Linked DNA regions of Homo sapiens: region 1 is linked to region 2. Evidence: fine-mapped expression QTL. Tissue or cell type: whole blood. Region 2 holds a variant in brackets; the other region holds the start of a gene. Each region is shown on its reference strand, or each on the opposite one. Region 1 holds the start of MKNK2 (MAPK interacting serine/threonine kinase 2). Region 2 holds the start of LOC107986482 (a long non-coding RNA gene).

What was found. PIP is the estimated chance that this variant, and not a neighbour inherited with it, causes the effect.
Region 1: it holds the start of MKNK2, and the variant in region 2 is the best candidate, but not a certain one, in a credible set for the expression of MKNK2 in whole blood (TOPMed, PIP 0.74).

Annotation. Positions count from the first base shown.
Region 1 is chr19:2,049,762-2,052,515 of GRCh38, forward strand. It overlaps MKNK2 (MAPK interacting serine/threonine kinase 2), which reads right to left and starts at 1,483. Exons shown (of 14, transcript NM_199054.3): 1 at 1,335-1,483; 2 at 1,040-1,186. The coding sequence starts at 1,090. RefSeq lists enhancers at 1-391, 568-627 and silencers at 198-387, 1,118-1,657.
Region 2 is chr5:173,776,401-173,779,398 of GRCh38, forward strand. It overlaps LOC107986482 (a long non-coding RNA gene), which reads left to right and starts at 1,876. Exons shown (of 2, transcript XR_001743004.2): 1 at 1,876-2,041. RefSeq lists enhancers at 1,370-2,569, 2,326-2,620, 2,446-2,665. The variant T/C (reference allele first, on the strand shown) is at 1,822.

The DNA of each region.
Region 1 (2,754 bases), not on the chromosome of region 2:
CTGCTGCCCTAGGGGAAAACTGGGCAGGGGTGGCAGGGGTGGAGTGCTGCCCTGGGGCACTGGCTGGACAGACCTGGGAATTCTTCCCAGTCTCTCTTTGCTCCTCCCACCCTGGAGCACCGCGTTGTGTGTACACACAAGACAGAGACACACACACACACAAACACACACACATACACTCACACTCTCTCTTCCTCTCTCCAGTCCTGCCTTCCCTACCGGGCAACAGGTCCCTGCCCAAGGAAGCCCAGTGAAGCGATTACATAACCCCGGCCTGAGGGGTGGGGCGGGCCGGCTGACATCACTGCGTCCCCTGGGCCAGGTCCTGCGGGGCCCCTGCCCAGCACCTGCCCTCCCCTTCCCCCCCAAGATTTGCTCATCTGAAACCAGCACTCAACAGCAGTCACCACCCGGGCTGCGCAGAAACTTCCCGCTCCGACAGGAAACAGCACTTGGGCCTGGGGTGTCTGCGAAGTGCAGGGCTGAGGGGACATCCCATCCCCTCCCCCACGGCACAGGCCCCCTGGGGGTGGGTGCACCTGACCAGCCCGGCCTGGGGATTCTGAAAGAAAGTCCCCAGAAGCCACATGGAGGTGGGAATGGGACTGTGGCCCGCTGACCCGTCCCCACCAGGGCACAACCAGCTGGAGCTTGCAGGGGACACCCCCCATAAGCCACATGCAGCGACTGGGACAGGACTGCAGCCTGCTGACCCCCCAGAACATACCCGGCGGGGGCTTGCAGGGGACACACAGCCTGGTGCCCTGACCCGGAGGGGGCTCCTGCTCCCAGCCTCACTTGGGGGTCCTGGAGGAAGGACCCGGCGGCCATGGCTGGAGAGAGGACTGTGGCCTGCTGAACCCCCATCCTCGCACACCGACCCCGCTTCAGCGCACGGCCGGCCCGGGCAGCCCCGGGTGTAGGGCGGGGGCCAGGCACGAGCCCCGGGAGCCGATCTTAGGGGCGGGCCCCGCGCCCCCCACGCCGGCCATTCCGGTGGTCCAGCCCGGAGCGCCCCCAAACCGACCCCGGGCCTCACCTTGAACGAACGGTGGAAACCCTGAAGTTCGGCTGGTTTCTTCTGCACCATCTTCTGTCCGGGCCCCGCCAGCGGGGGAGGGGACCGAGGGCCCGGGGGGAGGCCCGAGGGCGGGCGGCCGGGCGGGGGGCGGCCGAGGAGGGGACCCTGCGGGCGGGAGCAGACAAAGGGAGGGCGGTGAGCGGAGCCCGGCCTGCCAGGAGCGCGGACCGGGCGGGGGCGGCGAGGGCTCCGCGGGGCCCGTTTCCCGCTACCGGGTCGGTGTCCTCGGGGCCGCCCTGGGGTTCGCACTCACCGGGGTCGGGCTTGGGCCGGGGCCGCAGTGCCGCCGCCGCCCCACGTCGCGCAGCCCGGACCCCGCTCCGCGGACCGCGCGGGGAACAGCGCCGCCGCCGCCGCCAGCGCGGACCCCTCTACCTGGGCCACCGCCGCTGAGAGGAGCCGGGCGCGTCGCCGCCGCCGCCACCTTTATAGGCCCGGACCTGCTCTGGCCCCGCCCCCGACGCAGGCTCCGCCCGGCCTCACCCCCTGCGCACGACGTGGGCGGAGCCAGAAGAGGGCGCTCTCCGGGAACCCAGTGCGGCTGCGCGCTCCGGCGGTGGGGCGTGTCCGAAACGGCTAGCGCACGCCTGCGCAGTGCGGCGCACGGGGGTCTCGGTGCGGAACCTAGGCAGCGACCCTGCGGCGCGCCCGGAGCTGGCCTGTTTTTGCCGCCTGAGGCTCGCGGGGCCCGTGGGACCTGCGAGGCCCTGGGCCGTGTCCTACCGCCTGGCCCCACACAGGGCAACTCCCTTGGCCTGTCAACCCAGGCCTAGTATACCCCGACTCCCTTGGTTCATGCCCTCGCTCTAGAACCTGCCATGGCTCCCTCTTGCAGTTCTCCAGTGCTGGCTCCAGCAGTCCCCCTCGTGCACCACCAGCACGCTTGGAGTCCCAGCCACTCCCTTCTAGTGCTGGGGGACCAGCCACCGCCACCTACTTTCTTCTTCCCCTGGGCCACCCTGCCTGGGGAGCACTGAGCTCCCCGAGTTTGCTTTGTGGTTGGCAGGAACCAGAGTAGAGGGTGGGGACCGAGGTCTGTGAAGGACCCTTCCTCTGTCCTCGAATAGCATTTCAGGGAGAACTGGGACCTGAGACCCACTGGGAAAGAGCCCAAGGGGTGGATGGTCGCCAGGACAGGAAGTAAAACACAGTCCCATTTTGGCTGGGGCCCCAAACCAGGCTTAGATAGAATCAGCCTGTCCTGAGCTGCCAGTCCCCCATCCCACAGCATCCTGGTTCAAAGTGCTCCCCAGGCCCCGGGCCTGGGGCACACAAGGAGTGGGGGTTCCCCTGCTGGGTGGACTGTGGTCTCCTCTTCTGCAGGGGTTTCCAGAAGCTTCGCACAGCCCATCCCACCATCCCCCAACCAGGCCCTGAGCTCAAGAGGGGCTGGAGCCCCACTGACCTGAAGCTGGAGGGCCCCTGCCTGCAAGGCCACAGCTCTCAGGCCACAGGGGCTGGGAGGCCTGGCCTCAGCCACCCCCGGGGCATTGGGGGGAAGCCTGTGGGGAATTCCCAGCCAGAACCCAGCCCAGCACCTGGCATTGCCCTGACTCTTGGCAATGGGGGGACAGAAAACCAGGTCCCCCAGCCCCCCTTATTGTGCATGTGGGTGCGTGTGTGTGCGTGTGAACACATACACGCACAAACACACGTTAGCTCCAGGTGCCAAC
Region 2 (2,998 bases):
CAGATTCCAAACTGCCAGTGACTGATCTTCAACTTCCAGCCTCCAAAACTGCGAGGAATAAATTTCTGTAGTTTATAAGCCACCCAGTCTATGGTATTCTGCTATGGCAGCCTGGAATGACCAAGACAGCAGCCAAATGAACTTTTGGATGGGGCCTCGCAGACTTTCAGGGCCTGGAGATCCTCTGAGAAGAACATCTCTCTAATTCGGCTCCCTCATTTCAAAGCAGGGAAAGAATCTTATTTGCATGATATAATAAGCAAGAAGCTGGGGCTGGGCTGCTCTCTCTTTAACTCTTCTCAATAAAGAACTGAATCATACAATAGGGAGCCCCTTGCCCCTGGGGAGTAGGGGAAAGTGAAAAGACAGGGAAACAAATAGATTGCATCCTGTGGTAAGAGAGTTTTTCTCCTGTGAAAATTCTCTTTCAATCCTTGTCATTACACCAAGAAGAAAATCTCACTTTGGTACTAATAGGTCTTTAACGCCTCCCTCAAACTTTAACACCTCTCCAAATCTCCCTTTCAAATGGGAATCAAACAGGCCTCAAGCCCAGAGTCTTCCACAGGCAACCCTATTCCTCTAGAATTAAATATTCTAGAGTTTCATAATATCATTTTATTTTCGTGGTATATCTTTTTCTGGATAGCTTCTATTTGTAGCAGGTGGGATTGGCTTTCCATCTATGGTAGTAAGTTTTCCTTTTGAAGAAATGTATTTTAAGTTTTAAATGGGAGACAAGTTGAGGAAAAATAATGAGGGAAAGACTAGACCACATGATATGCAGTGATAGCAAAATTATCGGTAGACCTTAAACCATTGAAGTTTGAAAGCAGGAGTGGAGGACAGAGGGATGGGCTGGTGACCCTGGGGCCGCTCACCAGAGCAGGCTCCACACATGTTATTAAGCAAATGTCAAGCCTGAAATTTAAAAGGTGGCTCTTTAAATGAATTAGAGTCAGAGACACTGGAAAGTGCCAGGAAATTCTTCACGTGACCTTGAACAGACAGAAACCTCCTGAGATGAGAGAGTACAGGTCTATTATTTGACTTGGCAAAGGACCCTTCTGGTGGATAGGGGTGTCCCTTCTCTAAAAAATGATGTGCAGTGCATTTCTGTATGTTTCCTGTGAATAACCACTGAGGCACCAGCAAGGGGAGTCATGGGGGTAGAAGGACAGCCGCGGTAGCCATCACCCATTGAGACCCTGCTCAGCTCTGCCTGTGCTGCCAGGAGCCTCACCTCACCCTTTCAACAGCCCTTTCATGCTGATGCTAGTAACCTCTGACGCTTATGGAGCACACACTGTATGCCAACATCTCTTCAAAGCCTTCATTCATTCATTTAATCCAAACAGTAACCCAAGGAGACCATCATTATTACTCCCACTTTACAGATCAGAAAACTGAGGTGGAAAGGGTAGGTCACAGCTGGTGGTCAGTGGTAGAGGCAGATTCAAGCCCAGACATTCCGGCTCCAGAGCCTACACTCCAACTTTGTGGAGGGGAGTGACAGAGGAGGATGCACAGCTACTAAATTGTAAAGTCAGCAAAACCATCCTCCCCAAGGTGGCATTTCCCCCAAAAGCAAGCTATTGCATTAATTCAACAAATGTTTGTTGAGCATCTACTATGTGGGAAAGACCCTCTTTTTGTTCCAGTCATCGGCAGCTGGGGGCTCTAGGTCCATCCCTGCCCTCCCCGAAGCAGGAGAGTAACCTTGTAGACTTCCTGTTAGGGCCCTGGGGTCTCTGGGTGAATTTGATGCAGACTCAGCCATTAGCCTGGCTGGGCCACAAAATCAGGAAGCTTAGACCAGTG[T/C]TGTGGAACCTTGATTCCTGTCCCAGTTTTGTCATTTCCTGCCTCAGCCTCTTTGCAACTCCCGGCCTCAATTGCCTCACCTCCAAAATGGAGGTCTTAATGACAATGGTCTGGCTTCACTCACAGGGTTATCGTGAAAATCAAAAGAGATTGCTCAGGGAAAAGCCTCTTCAAACTGGAGCTCCAGGTGATGGTTGTCATCTGTCGATGTTGCTCTCTGGTGAGTTCTTTAAAAATGGAAATTACTGTTTGTTTCTAATTACAAAAGTTCAGGAGTTACAGAATAGCACACAGATTTTTAAACACGGTTTATTACCCCACTACTTGTTAATAATCTCTACTAACCTGTTGGTGTATTTCCTTCCGGATACATAAAGAGAGTTGAACCCTGAACGATATGGAAGTTGGGGTGTTGACCCCCCTCAGAGTTGAAAATCTGCATACAACTTTTGACTCCCCAAAACACTACAGATAGCCTACTGTTGACTGCAAGCCTTGCTGAGAACATAAACAGTCAATTAACATATTTTGTATGTTATATGTATTGTATACTGTATTCTTACAATAAAGGAAGCTAGAGTAAAGAAAATGTTATTGAGAAAATCATAAGGAAGAGAAAGTATATTTACGTTCACTACGCAGAAGTGACTCAGCATAAAGGTCTTCACCCTTGTCATCATCAACTCGAGTAGGCTGAGGAGGAGGAAAAGGAGTGGTTGGTCCTGCTCTCTCAGGGGTGGCAGAGGTGGAAGAAAAGTCACCTGTAAGTGGACCTGTGCAGTTCAAACCTGTGTTGTTTGAAGGTCAACTGTATGATGATTGCCTACATAGAACCCGGTAGCTTTCTACAGCACTTGGAAGGAAATCCACACTCCTTATCAACACTTCACCTTGACTTTCAGTCTGTGTGATCTGGCCCTGCTTGCCTCTCCTACCTCTTCTCTCTCTACTCACACATTATTTCTCTTTCTTTTTCCCTCCTAATACACCAATGGCATTTCCCCTCAAGGCCTTCGCCTCTTTGCCTGAAATGCTCTGGATTTCATGACTCTGGAAATCATGACTGGATTTTTTTTTTTTCAGCGTGCAAGTCATGGCCGAAATGTCACCTCCTTGGATAGTCCCTCCATCTTCACGCACACTAAACTAGTCCATCTTGCATGCCTTTCTTCATGGC